Linked DNA regions of Homo sapiens. The protein of the gene in region 1 interacts with the protein of each later gene in a pairwise test. Each region holds a gene or a part of one and is shown in the gene's direction. Other genes may lie near its edges.

Region 1 (3,309 bases):
AGGCTGGGGGCTTGGTGGCTTGGTGTGACACCAGGCCACCTATCTCCAGGCAGGAAATGATGGGGAGCCTGGAGTTGGGGCCTGAGGCTGATGTGTCCCAGCTGGAGCCCCTTCTGACCTTGGAGAACATTGAGCAGCTGGAGGCAACATTTGTGGCCAACATCCAGGTGAGTAGTTGAGGCACAGGTCCAGAGAAGTCCTACTTATCTGCTGTGGGCCTTTATCTGCAGAGTGGAATGTCTACCCATCTCCAGCAGGGTCAGATCCCTGCTACATTCCTTTGCCCCTGGCCCCTCCCCCCAGGCAAGTGTGTCTCAGTGGCTGCAGAATGCACTGGATGGGGAGGTAGCTGAGTGGGGCCGGGAGCATGGGCCCAACACAGACCCGTCTGGCTCCTATTACTCACCAATGCCAGCCATTGTGCTGCAGGTAGGTGGGAAGTGGCCAGACAGGCAGGCAGCCTCCATGGGGCAGTGGGGAGGAGAGGAAGGAGGGAGGCTTTGCCGATGGCTGCTCATTTCTGCCTGCAGATCCTGGAAGAGAACATTCGTGTGGCCAGCCTGGTCAGTGAGTCACTGCAACAGCGAGTGCATGGCATGGCACTGTCAGAACTGGGCACATTCTTGAGGAGGTTTGCTGAGGCACTGACCCATTCCTGATCCCTATCCCTGCTCCCCAGGCAGCCCAAAGGGGCTCTGAGTGAATAAGACATGTCACAGGGAAAGGGCTCTTTCAAACAAGGACTTGGGTATCTTGGAGGTGGGACAGGAGTACCAGGGACTGGGGCTGTGGGGATGCCAGCATAGCAGCAAGTCCAGGAGCCACCTCTGCCCATTGCAGCTTCAGTGATGCTCTGATCCGATTCTCCCGAGACCACTTCAGGGGGAAATCAATGGCCCCTCATTACGTGCCCTACCTACTGGCCGCCCTCAACCACAAGTCAGCACTCAGGTACCAGAAGGCCCCCAGGGAACCCCACCTTCACTAACCCCCTATTGAGTACCTATTATGTATGGGCTCAGCCCACACTAGGACACTAGGGACTTTGGACTCACATCGCCCTGGGGTTCCAATTCTAGTTCTGCTAATTACTAGTTGTGTGACCTTGGATGAGTTACCTAATCTCTGTGAATCTCACTTTTCTCATTAGTATTATGGGGGTACTAATGGAATGTTCTGAGAATCACATGAGATAACATGTAAAGTGGCCACCATAGTGCCTGGCACATGGTGTCAATTGTTCATTCGTCCAGCAAATATTTCAAGGCCCTACTCTGTGCCAGTAATGTCTGGGGTTACAGCTGTGTGTATACACGCACACACACACACACTCCCTTCCTCTTGGGTGGTATGTTCTTTTTGGTGGGGGCAAGGAAAACAAGTGATGATTTTTTACTCCCTCCTCACTGGGATACTTCCCTTCCTTTACGAATGAGGAAACAGAAACCGAAAGAATGTTTTCCTCAAGGACGCACCGCGAATTTGAGGCAGGTCTCGCTGGGCTGTGTCCTTTGCAGCTCGCCAAGCGCCCGTCTCCCAGCCCTGGTCCATGCCTGGGACCAGAAGTGCAGAGAGCCGCTGTTCTCGCTCCCTCCCGTCAAACACTTGCCCCACAAGGTGGCGCCGGAGGGTCTGGACCACCGAGGGCCATGCGGGCCTTGGCCTTGGTCCTGAAGCCGTAGTTTTGCTTGGTCCAGCTCCTCAGTGTCTGTCCTGCAGCTGGACGGGGCGCCTTCAGGGGCCTTGGCTCCAGTGGAAGCTGCGCTGGACGAGTTGCAGAGGAGGATCTACCGCTTGGTGTTGGAGGCGCTGCAGGCGGAGCTCCAGGTGAGGCCTCCTTCAGGTCAGGATGGGAGCAGGTGGAGAGGTGGCGGTACAGCTACGTATGGGGGTCTCCGCGGCAATGCCAGATCTGGATCATTTCCCCAGCCCCTGTTCGCGGATCTGCCCTCGCGCCAATGGCTGTCGAGCCCTGAGCTCCTGCAAAGTGTGTGTGAACGGACGGGGCGCTTCTGCCGGGACTTCTGGCGCGTGCGGAACCCCACGGTTCAGGTGGGTTGGGGGAAAAGATTGGGGAAGGGGCGGCGCGGGTGAGAGGCGACCTGCACCCGCCTGATTGCCTCCCCGCAGCTGCTGCTGGCTGAGGCCGAGCGTGCCGTGGTGCTCCAGTACCTGAGCGCGCTGATGCAAGGCCGCCTGGTGTGCCGCGGAGCCGACGAGAGGACCCAGGCGGCCGAGCGCCTGCGGCACGATGCTGCCCAGCTTCAGCAGCTTTTCCTCAGTTTGGTGAGAGCTTCTTGGGCGGGCAGACGGGCGAGAGTCTCAGTGGCTGGGTGGGAGAGAGGGCTGGCGCGAGACCCTACCCCGACGTGCTCAGGGCCTGGAGGAGAACGCGCACTGCGCGCCGGTGCTGCTCGCCCTGAGGGAGCTGCTAAACCTCCGCGACCCCGCGCTGCTGGGCCTGGAGGTGGCTGGCCTGCGGCAACAATTTCCCGACGTGAGGTGCGGACTGGGGGCCAGAAGGGAAGAGAAGCCGGAGGGCGGGGAGGACGGGGCTGACGCGCCTCCTTGGTGCCCCTGCAGCGAGGACCACGTCTCCGCCCTCTTGGGCCTGCGCGGGGACTTGTCCCGGGAGCAGCACCTGGCCGCGCTCAGCTCCCTGCAGGCTGCGCTGCCGCCGTCGCCCCGCGCGAGCCGCCGCGTCCTCTTCAGCCTAGTGCCCGCGCCCGCGCTCGCGCCGGCCTCCTGCCTGCCCTCGGGGTCCTGCGCCCGAGCCCTGCTGCTCGCAGAATAAACCACGGCTGCCGGACGCCTGAGTCTGTGTGTGTTGGGGAAGGTGGGATGGAATAAAAGTGCCCACGAGGGTTGAGGGAATTCTTGCAGAGTGACACGCTTAAAGTATCCTGGCTCCCGTCCTGGTACACGGGCTGCGCCCCGCCTATGCAGGCATCTGCCCTCTGTGCAGACTGCGTTCCCGAGGCCGCGGGCTACGCCCCCACGTCTCCGCGCCCAGGCCGTGAGCAAGAGTCTCCGCCGCCCTGGCCGCCTGGAGCCCCTGAAGCCCAGCAACTCGCTGTGGCCTTGGGAAGGGGGCGGGCCCAGGACCACGAACACCGCCCCCTCAACCCTGCCTGGCTTCGCTCCCAGTGGCCTCGGGGGCGCGCCGCCGCGGAGACTGACGCGAAGCCCCACGCTTTCGTAAGAGCGTGCGCGCGCCCGAGGACGTACGTCATCGGCGACGGCTCCCGCCGGCTGGGCGTCCGGTGGCCGGTGTAGCAGAGCGGGAGCGGCGGGCGGCGAGCAGAGGAG
Region 2 (5,810 bases), on another chromosome or scaffold:
GATTCTTCCTTCTTATCTGTGAAAAATAAAGATAATGGAATAAGTTGCACCTTCTTCCAAGAGATAAGTGTCTGTATTTTTGCTTGGTCCATACATGGTTGAGCTTAGGACTTTTTGCCTCACACCTCCATGGTAAGAAATTAAAGAAAATGTTTCTTTCATTCCCATATTTTAAAACAAATTTCCTGTGACACCACAGTTAGCCTGCCAGTAACTCTCTCACAAGTCTACCTTTATTTGCGTAATCTTAGAATGATTTACAGAAAACAAATACCTTGCCTTCCCTCAAGTTTGGCTGGGACACATGAATCCATAAATGTTTTGGGACAGTAAGAAAGGATATTGAAACATTTGTAGATTCTTTCATGACAATTAGCATTGACAAAGAAATTATCTTATTTCTTTTCACAGAAGAGAATCATATTCTTATGTGGATATAATATTCATGCAGAATTTAAGCCCTCATTTGTTTGGCTATCCCGAAAACAAGGTATAATTGGTCAGATGGGAGACAATGAAGGCATATATGTATGATCATGCTCATTACAGCAAAAATATATTAAAGGATGTCCCCAATACCAACGGTAGACCTCATAAAGCACTCAAATCATTGAGTTTATTATAAAATAAATGTTTAACTTCTTTCAAAAATTTTAATTGTTGAAATATGGAGGTGAGAAAGAGCTTAAGCAGTAGTGCAGTCAAAGTCCCTAAATTCACCTTTGGAAGTACGGACTTACCCCTAAGTAAGCTGAATTATTTTCTGTATTACTATGGACTACAGTCTAATTTTATTAGCTTATTTCAATTATATTCTTTTTTTAACATGTTATTTTGAAAAATTTCAAATCTAGAGGAAAGTTAAAAAATAGTAAAATGAACATTCAATACCTCTGACCTAGAGCCACCAACTATCGCCATATTTACACACACTTCCTCCCTCCCATATACATACATATCTTTGTGTGCATGTGTTTGCTGAGCCAGTTGAAATTAACTTGCTGATATCACCCCTAAGTACTTTAGCCTGTATCTCCTTGAAACAAAATCATCTTCCTACATAACAATTGAATTATTGCCTTCAAGAAATTTATCATTGATAAATAATACCATCTAATATACAGTTCATAATCAAGTTTCCCCAATTTGAATTTTCATAATTGTTATAGTAATTTCCTTAATCACTATTATTGACACAGGATCCAATAAAAGTTTACACAATGCATTTAGTAGTCATGTATCTTTTATTTAGAACATTCTTCCCCCGATCCTTTTTTTCCTTTCTGTCTTTCATGACATGGACCTACCTTGTAGAGTCCAAGTCTGTTGTCTTGCAGCATGGCCTATAATCTAGATTTATCTTATGGTTTTATCATGATAGTTCAAAATGTTTATGGAAGAAACCCCTACTTATCCATATACAGTTGGTTTTCCACATACATCCCCATATTTTCCCATTTCTAAGACTTTGCTCTCACAGACTGTTTCTTTCATGTATGCCCTCACGTGTCTCTACAAGGCCTGGTTCAATACTTAACCTTCTCCAGGAAGATTTCTCTGACGCCTTTCATTCTGAAAGAGTCTGTGAATACCTAGAATACATTAGCCTTTCTTTTCTTGTAGCATGTATAATTTTTTGACTTTGTATGTATTTTTATTTGGTCACATATCTTTTACCTTCTCCCCAGTGAAAGTCAACTAAAGGCAAGCCTAGTTTATCTTTGTGATCTCTCTGGCATCTAGCACAGACTAGGCCATCAATATGTTTATTTCCTGAATGGTTAGATGAATAAATCAATGAACAAATCAAAACAGTATCTTTAGCCTCTGAGATATAGTGAGTTGGTTAAGAACTTAATTCTTTATAAAAGGTTACAGAATTTCTTCATACGTGTGCTTTCTGCATCTAAAATAGTCTACTTATTTTGTGTAAAAACTCTAAATAAATTTTTAGTTTTAATAAGAAAACATGTATATCACATGGTATAGCTCTTTTAAAAATCATGTTGGTAAGCGTTGAGGGAAGTCTTTCAATCTGGCAAGTTCATTCTTTAGCTTTGGGAAGTGGTCCCATATTATTTCTTGATAATTTCCTCTTGTGCATATTTTTTTTCTCTCTGGAATAAGTCCTATAAATCAGACTTCTGAGTTAAGATTTCTGAGTTCATCCTCTATATGTCTTATCTTTTCTTCTGTATTTTCTATCTTCGACTTTCTGAAAGACTCCTTCAATATTGTCTTCCAGCCTACAGGTATTACTGATCTTTAAAATTTTTTGAAATTTGTGTTTTTAATTTTTAGGAGTTTTGTTTTTATTCTCTGAGTGGTCTGTTTAATACCATCCATTTCTTGTCTTATGGATGTAATATCTTCTCAAGTCTGTATAAAAATAGTAATTAGAATTTAATGAAAATGTTCTTCTGTTCCCTTCATTAGCTCTGTTTAAGCTTTCTTAAAAGTTCTTATTTTTATCTTGGTCTCTCTCTTATTCATATTGAAGGCATGCTATCCATTAAGTATAGAAACTTCTGTGCACTGCAAAGCTGATTGGGAATTCTATGTATGTGAGCAAGTTTGCCAACTGCCAGGTTGGCTATAGGTTAATTACATGTTGACTTTGGCATTATGGTCAGAAACTCCCAACTGTCAAAACATGGAGATCTTTTTTCTGAGATCATTCAATTTCTTTAATAAAAAACTCTTCAGTATTTTGCCTGGGAATAAACATCTAGTTGCTGAAGACACCCAGCAGAGGGGTGTGTGTGTGTGTGTGTGTGTGTGTGTGTTCTGTTTATTTTGGCTTCTTGTTACCTTCTGCTGTTTTTAGTCCTTTATTTCACCCCTTCTGTCTGCCATACCTGTCACCTCTTGTCTATCTCCTCTGCATCAGCACTCCAAGCCTTGGCTTTATCCTGCTATATCAGTTATCACTCATTTTTCCATCTAGTTTCCATTTTCCAGAATTTTGTTAAAATTTCTGACCCTTTGATGAATTATCTTGCTGTTTTGTTATGGATTTATATGTTTTTTTTGTTTTTTTTTTTTTGAGACGGAGTGTCTCACTGTCACCAGGCTGGAGTGCAGTGGTGCGATCTCGGCTCACTGCAACCTCCGACTCCCTGGTTCAAGCGATTCTCCTGTCTCAGCCTCCCAAGTAGCTGAGATTATAGGCACGGGCCACCACGCCCAGCTAATTTTTTTGTATTTTTAGTAGAGATGGGGTTTTACCATGTTGACCAGGCTGGTCTTGATCTCCTGGCCTCATGATCCACCCACCTCGGCCTCCCAAAGTGTTGGGATTACAGGCGTGAGCCACCATGCCTGGCCTATATGTTCTTTTAATGCCTTTACCATTATTCTGTGGAGTCTTGGGAAGGAGAGGAAATAAATGCATGTTTTTATTTGCCATCTTTAATTGGACTGCTTAATGTAAAACTGTTCGTGTTATAAATTCCCCCTCATATATTTGGTTTTGTGACTGCAGTAGTGTAAATTCTCTGCCTAGAATTTTAAAGAAAGTGATTCTGTATGTGATTAGGGAGTAAGGTTCAGATAACCTTGAGTGGTTTAAAGTTTCCTACTGAGTAATCTGAACAAGGCGGATTTAAGATACTGCAGACAGAGTGTGAGAATAACTCTCTCTTCACAACTTAAGAAGCCTGGTTCCTTATTTACAACTGGGATAAGATAAATGGTTGAATACCTAGAGAAGTTCCACAAAAAGTTACACAAAAAGTTTAGTTAAATTTAAGTTAAAAGTTAGTTAAAATGAAAAGTTAAGTTTTTATTCTGCTACTAAACCATGCTCCTCTGCGTGTCTGAACCTTCAGGTTCCTCTAGATTTCTAGCACCTGAAAGAAAACAAAACTGCAGCATCAGCCAGGTAGGCCTCTCCTAATCTTACTCATTCACAGAGAATTTCCCCTTTGAGTCACCATGGCATTGGCTGGTTACTCATACCACAGATCCCTCAGGATTGGCTGGGACTGCAAATAAAATACTGTTTGCCCATAATCAAGTTGATAAGCTACAACATAAACACATCTAGGTTCTTGTTCTTAGAATACAGCATGAAGAATTTGCTTTCTTCTTTCTTCCTAACATTTTCATGTGAGATCCAGAAAGGACACATTGTCTCTGGCCATTCGAAGAAAGAAAGAAAGAAAAAAAAAAAAGGTATTTAGAGACAGAGAGAGAAAAAGGCTGAAATGGGTTCGCTGGGTTCTAAAAATCCGCAAACCAAACAAGCCCAAGTTCTTCTTTTGGGACTTGACTCAGCTGGGAAGTCTACTCTCCTTTATAAATTAAAGCTTGCTAAGGATATTACCACCATCCCTACAATAGGTTTCAATGTGGAAATGATCGAGTTGGAAAGGAATCTTTCACTCACAGTCTGGGATGTTGGAGGACAGGAAAAAATGAGAACTGTTTGGGGCTGTTACTGTGAGAACACCGATGGGCTGGTGTATGTTGTGGACAGTACAGACAAACAGCGACTGGAAGAGTCTCAGAGACAGTTTGAGCACATTTTGAAGAATGAACACATTAAAAATGTGCCTGTTGTTCTATTAGCCAACAAACAAGACATGCCTGGAGCTCTGACTGCTGAGGACATCACCAGAATGTTCAAAGTGAAGAAGCTTTGCAGTGACCGGAACTGGTATGTGCAACCCTGCTGTGCCCTCACAGGGGAGGGGCTGGCCCAGGGGTTCAGGAAATTAACTGGATTTGTGAAGAGCCACATGAAATCAAGAGGAGACACTTTGGCGTTCTTCAAGCAGAACTGAGGCTGCGAAAAATCCAAGTCTCTACAGAGACACTGATGAAGTTGAAAGGGTAATTGTTTTTCCATGCCAAATGAGGAAATCAAATTAATGAGTTGACAAACTTTTCCTGAGATGTTATTTCATCTACATTTAGTTAAACAACTTAGAATGATATCTAGAAAATATTTATTTTCAGCCAGGAACTTTAGCAAACTGTGGCAATGATCACTGGGAATGAAAACGTATAATGTTCTACAATTTTTGTTATCACATTGGATGACTTTGAATATAGTAGTGACACTTGGGACCAAATAAATTATTTTATATGACTACTAGAACAAAGTTTTAGTAAGCTGTCTGCTAATAGAGTCAGAATTCTTCCAGATTGTTTCCAGCTGTAACAGGTATTGAATTTCCACCGTGCTCCTATGTAACAGCTGGGTGGTGTAAAAAATGAACTTCAAATTATGGAGTGGAAAAAGCGTAATGTTAATATCTTGTAAATTCGTATTCCCTATTAAATAAAGCTTTCTTATTCCCTAAATAAAGCTGTTCTTCTGGATTCCTGCCAGCTTTTTGAAATCTATTGCTGGGAACTTCCTCCAATGAATCTTAAACAATGAACTTCAGGCTGCTAATTGCTCAGAGCCTGTGTTCTGCCATAGGGAGCAGAAGTGTATAAACTTAAAGGTCTGGTGATCGGGGTAGCACCTTGGAGTTTAGGGCAAGATCTGGGCTCAGGGCTTAGCTCTAGGCTACAGCCCCGAGTCTTGCTTCCTTGGAATTCAGCTTAACAGCCATTGCTTGGAAACATATGTGCAGCTCATTGTACTGATCAAACAGGAACCAGACCTAGACTTTGCTCTCAGAGACCTACAATTCACAGCAGGAAACAACATAAAGCTAGTAGCTAGAGTAGGGCAATAAGTGCTAAGTGCGATTGCAGGAGATACTCTTTTTAACCAGGGAAACAAGAAATGTTTCATGCAGGAGATGGTATTTTAGAGGGTCCCTCACTCCCAGTGACCCTACAAAGGTACAGGT
Region 3 (7,051 bases), on another chromosome or scaffold:
CCATCCCTCTGAACCCCTGTCCCTAAACCTACCCCATCTCATGTGACTCTGGGGTTCCTTGGTCATTAGAGGGTTTTCAGGTCTCCCTGGTCCTGGTCTGGGGCAGCCAAGAGGCTCCTGGTCCCTGGGGTCTCTGAGGTCACTGTATCCCCCACTGCTCACTGCCATGGGTATCTCTGGCTCTTTCTGCTCCTCTCTGTCCCTCATTTTCCTCCCCTTTCATTCTAGCTGGGATGCCCTGCCCTGCACAGCTTCCTCCACCCTTAGGCCTTCCCCAGAAAACCCCTCTAACAAGGCTGGCTGTCCTGTTCCCTTCCTGCTCACACTGTGTCCTGGCCCACATCCCAGGCAACAGAGAAGGCACAGAAATCAGCCGGAGCAGCCGCCCCTGCCGGGCTCCATCACGAGCCAATGTCCCCAAGTCAACAGGAGAATGAGCTTCCACTGTGTCCCCATCCAGGGCTCTTTCCCCCAGTGAGGCCGACATGTGGAACAGGCCACGGGACAGGGACAAGCGACTCCTCCATACAGTCTCTACTGACTCACCAGGCAGTCAGAGGCAGGATGACAGGTCTGCTTTCCCCAAGGCCCAGAGGCTAATTTCATCCATTGACTTCCGTCCTCATCTTGGTGTGAGGCTCACATCCTCCAGTCATTCCCCAGGACCTTCCCCAGGTGGAGCCGGCCAGGCAGGTGCTGTCTGATGGGTTTGCTGCCCATTCCACATACACTACTGTGTCCTCATGATGATGCCATTGTCATAAGGTGGGGTCCCTTGGACTGAGAAGTGCACCAGCCACTGGAGTCTCACATAGACTCTGCCCAGTTTAGATGAACTTAAACTCTCATTGTGTTTTCTCAGGTTAACAGGAGAGGAAGAAAGCATTTCACATGACTGTTTGGGGCTCCTTCCCTATTTGCCTAACTGCACAGGAATTAGGGGCAGGGAGCTCTTTCTAAATTTACTAACATAACACACGTTGCTTCTAATTTGGCATCGTTCCTTCCTTTATGTAACTGACACACACCTAAGACTTCCTCTCCTACTGGTTCTATCCTCCTAAGAGGACTCATATGCCTCTCTCTACTCAAGGAGTTGCTAATTTCAAACCAACTTCAGCATCTTCATTTGACGACAATATGATCCTGCTGGAATTCACAGCACACCTAAACCTTAGTATGTTATCAAGAAAAATACTACTTCCAGCCCTTGATCTTTGATCTTTAGGACATTAGTAACGATCTCCACTTATGGAAAAAATTAAATGTTTCCCCCAAAGTTCTTTTATTTTTTACTATATTCAGAACATAACATGAGGTCTAAACTCCTGACAAACTTTTCAAAGCAAATTACAACACTACAGGTCAAGCATCCCACATCCAATAATCCAAAATCTGAAATGCTCCCAAATCTAACACTTTTTGACCACTAAAGTGATGCTGAAAAGAAATGCTCACTGGAGCATTTTAGATTCTGGGTTTTCAAAATTAGGGTGCTAAACGGGTAAGTCTACTGCAAATATTCAAAAATCCAGAAACAGTCAGAAATCCAAAACACTTTTGGTCCTAAGCCTTATGCGTAAGTGATACTCAATCCGTATGAACTATAGGTACCAAGCTGTACAGCAAATCTCTAGAACCTCATCCTGTGTATAACTGAAAGCGCACACCCATTGACTAACTCCCCATTCTGCCTCTCCCAATCCCTGGCAACCATGATTCTACTCTGATTCCATGAGTGTGACTACTCTAGGGACCTCATATAAGTGGAACCCTACAGTATCTGTCCTGTGAGTGACTTATTGCATTTAGCATAATGTCCAATGGGAGAAAATATTTGCAAAACTTCTCCTCAAATTTCTGTCTCATATCTGTCAAACACACATGGTCCTTGAGAGTCAGATTTGCAGCATTTCATGCTCCCCCTTTCCACCACTCAGCTGTGCATTTGCAAACATCCACATGTGTTTATGGAGAGAGCCACAGGGTCCTCACCTGCCCTCCGCAGAGGGAGAAGAAACATTAAAGGCCAAAGAAAAGGAACACGGTTCTGCTGGGAAATTCAGGCAGCTCCTGCCTGTCCCCCTCACTGTCTTCTAGATCATTCTCTGAATTCTGCTCTATCTGTAGGTGTCACAGGCTCAAGTCAGTCATTATTAAACACCTGGGAAAAACTGCCCCACCTGTGGTTCCACTGCCTGATGACCGAACTGACCTCCAGGCTTGCCCCTGGTGTCCCCTGTGTTATTTCTGCTGAAAGGTCCAATCCCAGGCCAGGCTGCACAGTATCCTTGGGGTTTAAGGACAATAAGAAGTCCCATCATCACCCATCTCTAGAATGTCCTTAGAAAAGGAAGCCACACAGAAAATACAGCTAGGGGGGCAAAGTAGGACTAAAGCTTGAAAAGACCCAGCACCTGAATGTTTCAGGTGAGGACTCCAAGGGAAGCCAGGCAGGCAGCTGGTCAGGGAGAAACCAGGAGAAGCACAAGGGGCTGTGACCCCGGGTCCTGTGTCTGTCCATGACCCAATGCTGCTGCTCAATTCACACTTGAGAAAGACTGTGCTTCTCCCACACAGAGCAGGTGATCTCACACAATCTCAGCCCTCAAATCATCGTGCATCTGTTGTGTGACACACACACCTGCCAGGGGCTTTTAAGGACTCAAGGGGGCTGAGAGGTGAGAGATGCCAACTCTGATTGAAAGATGCCTGTGGAGGAATCAAAGGTGCCACACAGGGCAATCTTCTCTCTGTTTTCTGCACAGCGGAGCTGCCCAAGCCCTCCATCTCCAGCAACAACTCCAACCCCGTGGAGGACAAGGATGCTGTGGCCTTCACCTGTGAACCTGAGGTTCAGAACACAACCTACCTGTGGTGGGTAAATGGTCAGAGCCTCCCGGTCAGTCCCAGGCTGCAGCTGTCCAATGGCAACATGACCCTCACTCTACTCAGCGTCAAAAGGAACGATGCAGGATCCTATGAATGTGAAATACAGAACCCAGCGAGTGCCAACCGCAGTGACCCAGTCACCCTGAATGTCCTCTGTGAGTATCTTCTGTTCCTCTGTGGCCCAGGCTGCCAGCCCAAATCCACACAGCCAGAGTCCAGGTCTCTCAGTCCCTCTCAGGTCTAAGGACTCAGACCCTCACCCAGGCTGGCCATGACTTCCTGCCCTGAGCAAACCTGGGCAGACCAGGCCTTGACCAAGAATGGGAGGGGAGGGGCTGTCTCCTGTGCTACTTCTGCTCAAACACCCATTCCCATCATCACTCATCTCCAGGATGTCCTTAAGGCTCAGGGTTCACATTTTCTGATGGGAGAAACAGGTGAATGTCTCAGACTTTGGCTCAGGGGACATAGCGGGGGTTTGGTTGAGACTTCAGGGTTGTGACATGGCTCAGGGGGACACCGTGGCCCTTCCACAGACCAGGAACTTATGCTTCCCTCTGACAACATCACCTGTGGCTTTATTCTGTTTCCTCCAGATGGCCCAGATGTCCCCACCATTTCCCCCTCAAAGGCCAATTACCGTCCAGGGGAAAATCTGAACCTCTCCTGCCACGCAGCCTCTAACCCACCTGCACAGTACTCTTGGTTTATCAATGGGACGTTCCAGCAATCCACACAAGAGCTCTTTATCCCCAACATCACTGTGAATAATAGCGGATCCTATATGTGCCAAGCCCATAACTCAGCCACTGGCCTCAATAGGACCACAGTCACGATGATCACAGTCTCTGGTAAGTGGATCCATGAAGCACTAGCATCACATTTTCAGGTGGAGTCTGGCTCTCAGAGAAGAGCCAGGAAGAAATTTTCTTTCCCAACCTGTGTCCAAGGGGCACACGCAAATCCCAAATTCTCCCCTGAACCCTCCCAATTCACCTCTGCAGACTCTTTTCCCCTTGTTTTTTTGTTTTTTGTTGTTTTTTGTTTTTTGATTTCTCATGTCTGACTTTGGGTCCATCCTGGAATGAGAGGAGGGGGCTCCCTCAGCACTGAGCCCTGTGTAGTGAAAGGGGCTTCACAGAGAAAAAAGGAGGAAGGGTCCTCAGGGTCAAGTTCCTGCTCTCTGTCACCAACAATTCCCTTTCTGTCACTTCTTTGTGTTCTTTTACCTACTCCATAAGCTACAAGGGACAAGGAGGTTTTGAAATGAGCTCACACTTTTTCCTTAAATGAGAAGAGGAAGCCCCTTGGGTGATGGAGGAGCAGCTCAGACTCTGCCCCCATCTCTGCTCCCAGCACCCCCAGTGACTGACTGACCCCACCCTGAAGCCACCTAAGGTGGAACCAGGGCATATGGAGAAGGTGCCCAGGTGTCTGTCCTGAATCAGGCTAAATCAAGATGCTAATCAACACCAAAGCCTCCCCTGGATCAGGCCGCAGGAAAATGGGAAGACATGGAGCCTCATGACAGACTGCTGAGCTGTGTCCTGGCTCTGAAGTCACTGGCTGTATAAGACTGTGGGCACAGCACATGGGACACAGCACAGAGGACAGCAAGTGACGCACACTTGGAGACATAGGGAGATTCAGCCATGGGGACTCTGCATGGCAGGGAAGGGGCAGTGACAAAAAGTGTGTATTTATAGAGAGGATAAGACTACCAGCCACTATGTATCTAATATAGGACTTACCTTTTCAACCCTTCCACGTGTGCAGGTCCGTAGTATTAAACACATTCCCGTTGTTCTGCTACCATCACCACCACCCACCCACAGAACTCTCTTCTTCCTCCCAAAATGAAACTCTGTTCCCATCAAACTCCTGGGCAGAGCTGCCCACCTGTGACCCACAGCCTGACCCCTGAACTCACCTCTAGACTTGCTTCTGGTCTCCCGCTCAAACCCCCATCCCCATCATCACCCATCTCCAGGATGTCCTTAAATAGCAAAGCCTCAGAAAAAACACACCTTGGCTGGGTGGTGTGGGACTGTGCAGCTGAAAGAAACAGCACCTGCATGTTCCAGGTGAGTACCCCAAAAGACCAGGCAGTCAGCCAGTCAGGGAAGAAACAGGAGAGGTGCCAGAGGCTGTGGCTGTCAGTCCTGTATCTGCCCAAGACTCAATGCTTCTGCCCTATTCACATTTGAGAAAGTCTGTACTTCTCCCACACAAAGCAGGTGGCCTCGATCTCCGAGCCCTCAGATCGTTGTGCATCCGTCTTCTGACACACACACCTGCCCTGGGCTCTTAAGGACTTGGGTGGACTGAGGGGTGGGAGATGCCAACTCTGACTGAACGATGCCTGCAGAGGAATCAAAGGTGCCACACACGGCAATCTTCTCTCTGTTTTCTGCACAGCGGAGCTGCCCAAGCCCTCGGTCACCAGCAACAACTCCAACCCTGTAGAGTTTTCTACATATAAGTTTAAGTTATCTGTGAACAGAGATAATTTTACTTCTTTCCGATTTGGATGTCTGTTTATTTGTTTGTTTGCTGCCTAATTTCTCCAGCTAGGACTTAAAACACTATGTTGAAGAGAAGTGGGGCAAGCAGGCATCCTTGTCTTGCTCCTGGTCTTACAGGGAAAGCTTTCAGTCTTTCTCCATTGAGTATCCCTCTATTATGTTGAGGTGGTTTCCTTCCATTCACAGAGTGTTTTTATTTATAAAAGAATGTTGAATTTTGTCAAATGCTTTTATTGGCTAAATCTTATTACTAATTATAGGTCTATTCAGATTTTTTTGTGTGTTCCAGGAATTTGTCCGTTTCATCTAGGTTATCCAATTTGTTGGCATACAATTATTTACCGCACTCTTTTAATCTTTATTATTTCTGTAGAATTGGTAGCAATGTCATCAATTTTTTTGAGAGTAGGTCTCACTCTGTAACCCAACCCAAGCTGGAGTGCAGTGGCTTGATCATAGCTTACTTGCAGGCTGAACCCCCTGGGCTCAAGTGATCCTCCTACCTCAGCCTCCTGAGTAGCTGGGACTACAGGCATATGCCATCATGCCTGGCTAGTTTAAAAAAAAAAAAATGTGGAGACTGTGTCGCCCTATGTTGCATAGGCTGGTCATGACTTTCTGGCCTCAAGCAACCCTCATCCTCTGACCTACCAGGGTGCTGGAATTAAAGGTGTGAGCCACCATGCCCCCATTTTCATTTCTGATTTTAGTAATCTGAATCTTCTCTTTTTTTCTCAGTCAACCTAGTAAATGATTGTCAATTTTGTTGATCTGTTTTGAAGAACCAACTTTTGGTTTCATTGACTCCCTTTATTGTTTTTATAGCCTCCATTTTATTTATTTCAGTTATAATTCTTATTGTTTCCTTCATTCACTATCTTTGGGTTGATTTTGTTCTTTTTCTATATCCTGAATTTGTAAAGTTAGGTTGTTGATTTGAGGTCTCTCTTTAATGTAAGTATTTACCACTATCAATTTCTTGCACAAGATTCTTAACTTCTCTGAGCCTTCAATTCTTCAACTGAAAATTGCAATAATTCTCATCACTAAGAAATGGGTGGAAAAAATGAAAATTGAAATAACAATGCCTGTTTCATAGTATCGTTTTGAAGATTTAATGTAACATTTGATTAAGCCTTCAGCAAAATGCCACACACAAAGAAAAGCTTCACAAATATTAGCTATTATTATTACTACTGTTACCATTAACCTTAAAGTCAGGTAGTCCTAGAGTCAAATTCTAAATCCACTTGTCACTAACCATGTGACTTTGGATAAGTTTTCTCATCACCCTAAGCCTCTGTCTTTTCATCTGTAAAATGGAAATAATGTCTACCCAAGAGAGTTACTGTATAAATCAAATGAGATACAGGTAAAGTATTTAGCACAGGGCCTGGTATCTAGGACATGCCCCTCAACAGTAGCTAACCTAGCATTAACCATCGCACTGAGATGACTGGTGAGGGCTAAGCACCAAATGGAAACTCACTAGGACATGGTTACTGGCTAAACATGGGAGAGAGGAAAAACAGTGCAAAGAATCAAGCCTGGTATGTTAGCTTTCATCCACTGAGATGCAGCCAAGATGGGATTAGAGGTACAAGATAATTCACTGGGTAAAACAGCCATGAGGG
Region 4 (7,962 bases), on another chromosome or scaffold:
TCACAGGATCTAGGCCGTTCCGTTCCCTTCTGAATTCATGGAGGACCCTTAGTTTAAAGTTAGAACGATTTTCTAAGTAGTTTAACCCCTGTTTTCTCCGTATCTTTATCTCTCATGCCACTTTCTTATGCAATTAAAACTACCAAGAAATCATTTTCATCTATCCCCCTGAAGTGCTCACTTTCAGAATCTCCTGTCCTCCTATGCAACATTGGCTGTTTTTTAAGCCTGCTACCCAGCTGTCATGTGGGAACACTCACTCAGTGCGCTCACATTGGAACTCCATTTCCAGGAACCTAAGTTTTCCTTTTTCATGTTTTTCTCTCTAGTGGCTTCCTGACAAAATGTGCAAAAGAGATAATTTTTTTGAGACCTTTCATGTCGGAAAAGATTTTTATTCCACCCTCACTTGTGGTTGTTAAAGTAGAGAATTTTGGTTCTCTACATAAGTCACAATTAGAAAAAAACTTAGAAATGAGGTGACAAACCTTAGGAAAGGATTAGAAATAAAAGGTTGGATATCATTTTGCGTTCACTTTTTTTTTTTTTTTAAGAGACAGCATCTCGCTCTGTCAACCAGGCTGGAGTACAGTGGTGTGATCACAGCTCACTGCAACCTCCGCCTCATGGGTTCGAGCAATTCTCTTGCCTCAGCCTCCCAAATAGCTGGGATTACAGGCACATACCACCATGGCCCAGCTAATTTTTGTATTTTTAGTAGAGACGGGGTTTCACCATGTTGGCCAGGCTGGTCTTGAACTCCTGATCTCAAGTGATCCACCTCCCTCGGCCTCCCAGAGTGCTGGGATTACAGGCGTGAGCCACTGCGCCTGGCCTGGGTTCGTATTTTGAAAGCATTCTTCACTAGAATGATGGCTTTCCTAAAATTGAATATGTGTTGGTTTTGCTCCTGACATTTTAAGTGTTTGTTTGTCGCCCCCGCCCCCAGCCATGGTTCTCTGAAAGATCCTGTGGATGTGCCTCACTGTGGATGTTTTTCATTTATCATTCATGGTTCTTGGTGGTCTCTTTGAATTTAGAAGCTCAGTTGTTTAGTTCTGAGTAGTATTTCAGAAAATATGTTTATAAAATAATTTCTTCATGATTTCTCCCTTCTCTCTTTCCAGAAGACCTACTTGATGTTGTTCTTCTTTGACCAAGTCTCTCATTTTCTTTTTCTTTTTTTTTTTTTTTTTTTTTTTTTTTTTTTTTCTGAGATGGAGTGTTACTCTGTCGCCCAGGCTGGGGTGCAGTGGCGCGATCTCGGCTCACTGCAAGCTCCGCCTCCCGGGTTCACGCCATTCTCCTACCTCAGCCGCTGGAACTACAGGCGCCCGCCACCACCGCCGGCTAATATTTTTGTATTTTTAGTAGAGACAGGGTTTCACCGTGTTAGCCAGGATGGTCTCGATCTCCTGACCTCGTGATCCGCCCACCTCGGCCTCCCAAAGTGCTGGGATTACAGGAGTGAGCCACCGCGCCCGGCCCAAGTCTCTCATTTTCTAATATTTTCTTTTATCTGTAAACAAGTTCTCTGAGAAGGAAATTCAAGGACAGAGACTTCATTCCAGCAAACAGCTAGCAAGCTGGTGAGACACAGCCTTTGGTGTAAAATGAAAATGTGTTCCAGAGAACAAAGGAAGGGAATTTGTCTTTTAGAGAAAGTTCCCACCCAGGTTCCCACTTAGGTCTGCTTATGCAAAATGCAGGATTGAAATTTACTTAGTTCTGGTTGGTTGATGTTTGCTTAGTTAGCTCTTATTAGTCAGGGCATGCAGACTTCTGATTGATCCATGTAGGTTACAGCCTATTGTTTGGTTCAGGTGGCATAAACTGGAAGCTATGAAAGTCCCAAAGTTAAGCAGATGTGCACATTTTCTGGGAACTCAGAGTAAATATGTGACCTGTAGTCAGCAAATGGTTGCTTGGTTTTAATTTGAATTTAGGCCCAGTTAGCTGCTCAGGACTCATCTTAAGAGGCTGGTTCTTTACGCCAGGCACGGTGGCTCACACCTGTAATCCCAGCACTTTGGGAGGCCGAGGCTGGCGGATCTCTTGAGGTCAGGCATTCGAGACCAATCTGGCCAACATGGTGAAACCCCATCTCTGCTAAAAATACAAAAATTAGCCAGGCATGGTGGCATGTGCTTGTAATCCCAGCTACTTGGGAGGCTGAGGCAGGAGAATTACCTGAACCTGGGAGGTGGAGGTTGCAGTGAGCCAAGATCGCGCCAGTGCACTCGAGCCTGGGTGACAGAGCAAGACTCAGTCTCAAAAAAAAAAACAGAGAGAGAGAGAGACTGGCTCTTTCAAGGCTCACATATTTATCTTTTCATCTTTTTGTTCTAATTTTGGGGAGTTTTTTTTTAAATTTATTTTCCAATTCATCTATTGAAGTTTTCTTTTGGGACTTAGTTTTTAATTCTAAGAGGTCTTTTATGTGCTTCCTGTTCAATTTTAATGATGTTCTATCCATGTTTTAAATATACAGTATTTTTGTTACTTCTGAAAGTAATAATTATAGGTAGTTTCTTTTTTAAAGTTTTCTTCAACGTTCTTCATTATCTCTGTTTCCCCTGAGTGCTATTTTTTGTTTGTTTGAGTCTCTGTCTTTCTTGTTGGAGTGTTTTTCAATGTATCGTGATATTTTAAATTATGTTCGTTTTGAGTAAGACCTTAAACATTTGAAAGCTTTGTGTGAAGTGTCTGTGTTTCCTTCCAGAGTGGTTGTACAGTGAGCTCCCTTTTTGTGGAGAACACTCAAACAATTCTATCTGGAGGTATTTTCTCTGAGATTCTTCAGCTTCCTCAGAGAGACCCAACAATTCGGGCTGGCTACATAATTTACAAGGCCCAGTGCAAAATGAAAATGTGAGGTCTCCTGTTGAAAAGTCAGAAAAAAAGTTCAGTTAGAAATATTAAAATAGGTCCAGCGCGGTGGCTCAAGTCTATAATCCCAACACTTTGGGAGACCAAGGTGGGTGGTCTGAGGTCAGGAGTTTGAGACCAGCCTGGCCAACATGGTGAAACCCCGTCTTTACTAAAAATACAAAAATTAGCCGGGCATGGTGGCAGGCACCTGTAATCCCACCTACTTGGGAGGCTGAGGCAGGAGAATCACTTGAACTCGGGAGGCAGAGGTTGCAGTGAGCCGAGATGGCACCACTGCACTCCAGCCTGGGCGACAGAGCGAGACTCCATCTCAAAAAAAAAAAAAAAGAAATAGTAAAATATAAATCTTTTTCTTCTAAAAAGTCTTATTATTTATAACATGTAATGAGGTAACGGGTACACATATATAACAGCATAAACTACAAACAGCAAAGAAATAATGTTTTGGTGTCCTAATTTTATGTAAAACAATAAACCATAATACTTTAATAATGTATTAAATTGATTGACAAATCTTTCTGGCTTTTTTTCCGCAAGCTCATTTATTAAGTCATGAAAATTTATATTTTTGCCAACTTCATTTTCAATCTAGGTAATTGAAAGTGATGTCAATCATTCTTGGCAAATGCAAGATCTCAAATGATTTGTTATAATTTTTAGTCTGAAGAAGAAAACCAGGTGGAAAGAATAACATGAACAAAGGCAAAGAGATGGGAAAGAGGGAAGTAGTAAAACAGAACGGACAAGTCAGTGCGGGAAAATTTACATTAAGACAGTGAGGTGGCTCCTGCCTATAATCCCAGCACTTTGGGAGGCCAAGGTGGGAGGATCTGTCGAGCCCAGGCATTCAAGACCAGCCTGGACAACATGGCAAACCCCAACTCTACAAAAAAATACACAGATTAGCCAGGCATAGTGGCGTGTGCCTGTAGTCCCAGATATTTGGTAGGCTGAGGTGGGAGGATCACTTGAGCCTGGGAGGTTGAGGCTGCAGTGAGCTGTGATCATGTCACTGCACTCTGGCCTGGGTGACAAAACGAGACCCTGTCAAAAAAAAAAAAAAAAGAGAGAGAGTCGTAAATACCAAGCACAAAACTATAAGAAATGACAAAGGTAGGGCACAGGAGCTATAAGTGGAAGAGAAAAGGGGAGCAACATGAGATGTAGAAAATTTCTTAGAAAGCAACTGTCTGAAACTCGATCAGACTCATCAGACTGAGGTTGTCAGTATTGAATGTAACCAAGAGGGTATAGGGGAAAAAATAAAAGAAATGATGATTAGAGATGTGCAGTGATGTCTGAGAGGTTAATTTCAGTAAAATAGTGGGACCACAATTCAGAAATAAGAGGTGAAAAGTACAAGAAGCAATGCAGAAAAGTGCTATGGAAATGGACAGCCAATAGAAGGAATGCAGAAATATGAGCAATCTACAGACAGAAAGTGAATATAGAGACCACAGTCTAGACCCTTCACTTTACAGATGTGGAAACTGAGGCCCGAGGAGGTGACCAATTCCTTTACTTAACCTGGTTAGCAATGGAACTTAGACAGAAAACCAGTACAGATGAAATGGTAATTCAGGAAGGATAAGGATCAAAGGAACACTTTCTGTCTCCAAAGAAGATTCCCTTTAATGCCTCAGTTTTCCTTTAGGACCTCCCCTCCTTCTTCTGATACTATGATACTTCATTGCTGAAGAAAATGCAATGCTGATTTGAGCAAGGGAAAGAGAAATCTGTCTATCATACTTTTTTATTCTTATAGGTATTATGCATTCCTGAAGCCTGGAAGACAGGAAGAGTTACTCATACTAAATTTGAAATGCATCACTATAATAATCCTGATAATACTCCACCCTGTCCAACTCCAGAGATAACAAATAACCCCACAATAACTATCCACCTACAGAAATGGACACAGTATGGTAAAGCCATTCATTAAAAAAAAAAAAAAATCACCCCATTATGGATAATTCACAATGAGCTGGCAAACATCATTTGGCTATGAGCAAAGCTCATCAAGAAACACCCTAATAATGTGTATATAAAGGCAAACCAAGCTGTTTGAGTAGGCCGTTCACCATCAGAGCATCACCGCAGAAACAAAGGCTCCAGCCTCCGGACACCATGTCTGTGCGCTTTTCTTCTACCTCCAGGAGACTTGGCTCTTGCGGGGGCACTGGCTCTGTGAGGCTCTCTAGTGGGGGAGCAGGCTTTGGGGCTGGAAACACATGCGGTGTGCCAGGCATTGGAAGTGGCTTCTCTTGTGCTTTTGGGGGCAGCTCATCTGCAGGAGGCTATGGCGGAGGTCTGGGCGGGGGAAGTGCTTCCTGTGCTGCCTTCACAGGGAATGAGCACGGCCTCCTCTCTGGCAATGAGAAGGTGACCATGCAGAACCTCAACGACCGCTTGGCCTCCTACCTGGAGAATGTTCGAGCCCTAGAGGAGGCCAACGCTGACTTGGAGCAGAAGATCAAGGGGTGGTATGAGAAATTTGGACCTGGTTCTTGCCGTGGCCTTGATCATGATTACAGCAGATATTTCCCAATTATTGACGAACTTAAGAACCAGGTAAGAAACGCCATGGCGTGAGTGTTAGCACTCCTGAGAGTGTTTAGCCACTCACAGATGCACAAATGTATAAGCTATCACAATAACAGGGCTTTGCCCTCAGCTTCTAAATTTTAGGAGTTCATTTTCAATATTAAAAATAATTTCTAATAAATTCTAATATTTGAACATGGCACGTCCATCATGTAGTATTAGGTATATGCTTTTGGTAATATTAAAATATCAAAAGCTGTCCAGTGTCTCCAGTTATATATTTATAGGCTTTCCCATAGAAAGAGCTTTTTTTAATGCTTGGGGTGGGAAATACAAGAGACCATACCCAGCCAGGCACAGTGGTTCAGCCTGTAATCCCAGCACTTTGGGAGGCCAAGGCAGGTGGATCACTTGAGATTAGGGGTTCAAGACCAGCCTGGCCAACATGGTGAAACCCTGTTTCTACTAAAACTACAAAAGTTAGCCGAGCGTGGTGGCACATGCCTGTAATCCCAGCTACTTGGGAGGCTGAGGCAGGAGAATCACTTGAATCTGGGAGGTGGAGGTTGCAGTGAGCCAAGATCGTGCCACTGCACTCCAGCCTGGGCAACAGAGCGAGACTCGGTCTCAAAATAAAAGACAGAGAGAGAGACCATACTTAAATTACCCATCTTCAAAAGAATGGTCTGATTATTAGAGACAGATGCCAGAAATATTACTATAATTTCATGGGTAATTTTATTTCAAGGAACTTTGAAATGCATCTTAAATATTTCCTCAATCTTAACTAACTTTTCATTTGTCAGATAATTTCTGCAACTACCAGTAATGCCCATGTTGTCCTGCAAAATGATAATGCAAGACTAACAGCTGATGACTTCAGACTAAAGTAAGTAGAGCTGAAGATAAATGGGAAAAAAAAGTTGTCTAAGCATTTTTTCTCCTTTATTCTTCTAAGTTATTTGACGTTGTCTCAAGCCTTTGTTCTTGTTTATTCATGTATTTGTTTTAAACAAAATGCCTGTTAGAATGAGTAACTAGCTGAGCAACAAATTTTACTTGGGAAATTTCGGGACTAACAAAAACGAGTGTCAAAGTCATATGAGAAAGAATTTTGGCTATTCCCATTCTCTTGCTTCAATGAAATGTATTTATTGCATGATAGATGACCTAACTGAAATGTGTTTTTTTAATTAATTAATTTATTTATTTATTTATTTATTTTTTGGAGACGGAGTCTCGCTCTGTCGCCCAGGCTGGAGTGCAGTGGCGCAATCTCGGCTCACTGCAAGCTCCGCCTCCTAGGTTCACGCCATTCTCCCGCCTCAGCCTCCCGAGTAGCTGGGACTACAGGCGCCCACCACTGCGCCCGGCTAATTTTTTGTATTTTTTAATAGAGACGGGGTTTCACCGTGATCTCGATCTCCTGACCTCGTGATCCGCCCGCCTCTGCCTCCCAAAGTGCTGGGATTACAGGCGTGAGCCACCGCGCCCGGCCTGAAGTTTTAAGTATTATCTTAGTAGTTTTACCTCAAAGCTTAGTCTGAGTTGTATGATGATCTAAAAAGTGATGTGCCATGTCTAATGACTAATGATGAAACTTCCAAATACTTTTCTAAGGTTTGAAAACGAGCTAGCGCTTCACCAGAGCGTGGAGGCGGACATCAATGGTTTGCGAAGAGTCCTGGATGAGCTGACCTTGTGCAGAACGGACCTGGAGATCCAGCTGGAAACTCTCAGTGAGGAGCTCGCTTACCTCAAGAAGAATCATGAGGAGGTAGAAGCTCCACCCGGCTGGCTCTCACAATCGCCTCCCTACCAAATTTTAAAACTAATTTCAGATGATAAATATAATGTCTTAAATTAACATTCAAGAAGGAACCTGTCAGTTTCTCCATAAGGCTTAGATTGTTTGAGACGCTTCTATTCATTCTTCTCAAAAGAAACAAACCTCCCAAAAAGTTTCTAACCCTATAGATCTTGTCCATCTGACTCCTTTAAAAATATTCAGGCCAGAAGCGGTGGCTCATGCCTATAATCCCAACACTGTAGGAGACCCAGAATGGAGGATCGCTTGAGGCCAGGATTTCGAGGCTGCAGTGAGTCATAATTGCACCACTGCATTTCAGCCTAGGCATCAGAGCGAGACCCTAACTCAAAAAGTGCAATAAATAAAATATTCAGATCCTAATTCCGTTAAACAAATATCTTTCAGGAAATGAAAGCTCTTCAGTGCGCGGCTGGAGGCAACGTGAACGTGGAGATGAACGCGGCCCCCGGGGTAGACCTCACGGTTCTGCTGAACAATATGCGAGCTGAGTACGAAGCCCTCGCAGAGCAGAACCGCAGGGACGCGGAGGCCTGGTTCAACGAAAAGGTAAAACCACGCTTGGGTGCGCCCGGGCGCGGACTCAGCCCCAGCGCCCTAACGCGGCCCCTGCCGTTCCAGAGCGCCTCGCTGCAGCAGCAGATCTCTGACGACGCTGGCGCCACCACCTCAGCCCGGAATGAGCTTATCGAGATGAA

What was found.
Region 2: the proteins of EXOC3L1 (region 1) and ARL14 interact in binary tests that used the Homo sapiens proteins (3 or more experiments, as listed by UniProt).
Region 3: the proteins of EXOC3L1 (region 1) and CEACAM6 interact in binary tests that used the Homo sapiens proteins (3 or more experiments, as listed by UniProt).
Region 4: the proteins of EXOC3L1 (region 1) and KRT27 interact in binary tests that used the Homo sapiens proteins (3 or more experiments, as listed by UniProt).

Annotation. Positions count from the first base shown.
Region 1 is NC_000016.10:67,183,879-67,187,187, reverse strand, and holds the end of EXOC3L1 (exocyst complex component 3-like protein), read left to right. Parts: intron 1-49; coding exon 50-167; intron 168-303; coding exon 304-429; intron 430-530; coding exon 531-631; intron 632-840; coding exon 841-951; intron 952-1,697; coding exon 1,698-1,827; intron 1,828-1,929; coding exon 1,930-2,052; intron 2,053-2,130; coding exon 2,131-2,286; intron 2,287-2,377; coding exon 2,378-2,502; intron 2,503-2,583; coding exon 2,584-2,794; 3' UTR 2,795-2,809; downstream 2,810-3,309. UniProt on the Homo sapiens protein: As part of the exocyst, may play a role in regulated exocytosis of insulin granules.
Region 2 is NC_000003.12:160,673,139-160,678,948, forward strand, and holds ARL14 (ADP-ribosylation factor-like protein 14), read left to right. Parts: upstream 1-4,021; 5' UTR 4,022-4,208; coding exon 4,209-4,787; 3' UTR 4,788-5,310; downstream 5,311-5,810. UniProt on the Homo sapiens protein: GTPase that recruits MYO1E to MHC class II-containing vesicles via the effector protein ARL14EP and hence controls the movement of these vesicles along the actin cytoskeleton in dendritic cells.
Region 3 is NC_000019.10:41,758,481-41,765,531, forward strand, and holds part of CEACAM6 (cell adhesion molecule CEACAM6 preproprotein), read left to right. Parts: intron 1-546; exon of another isoform or gene 547-881; intron 882-2,768; coding exon 2,769-3,047; intron 3,048-3,488; coding exon 3,489-3,743; intron 3,744-7,051. UniProt on the Homo sapiens protein: Cell surface glycoprotein that plays a role in cell adhesion and tumor progression. Intercellular adhesion occurs in a calcium- and fibronectin-independent manner.
Region 4 is NC_000017.11:40,779,551-40,787,512, reverse strand, and holds the start of KRT27 (keratin, type I cytoskeletal 27), read left to right. Parts: upstream 1-4,962; 5' UTR 4,963-5,019; coding exon 5,020-5,463; intron 5,464-6,242; coding exon 6,243-6,325; intron 6,326-7,056; coding exon 7,057-7,213; intron 7,214-7,651; coding exon 7,652-7,813; intron 7,814-7,885; coding exon 7,886-7,962.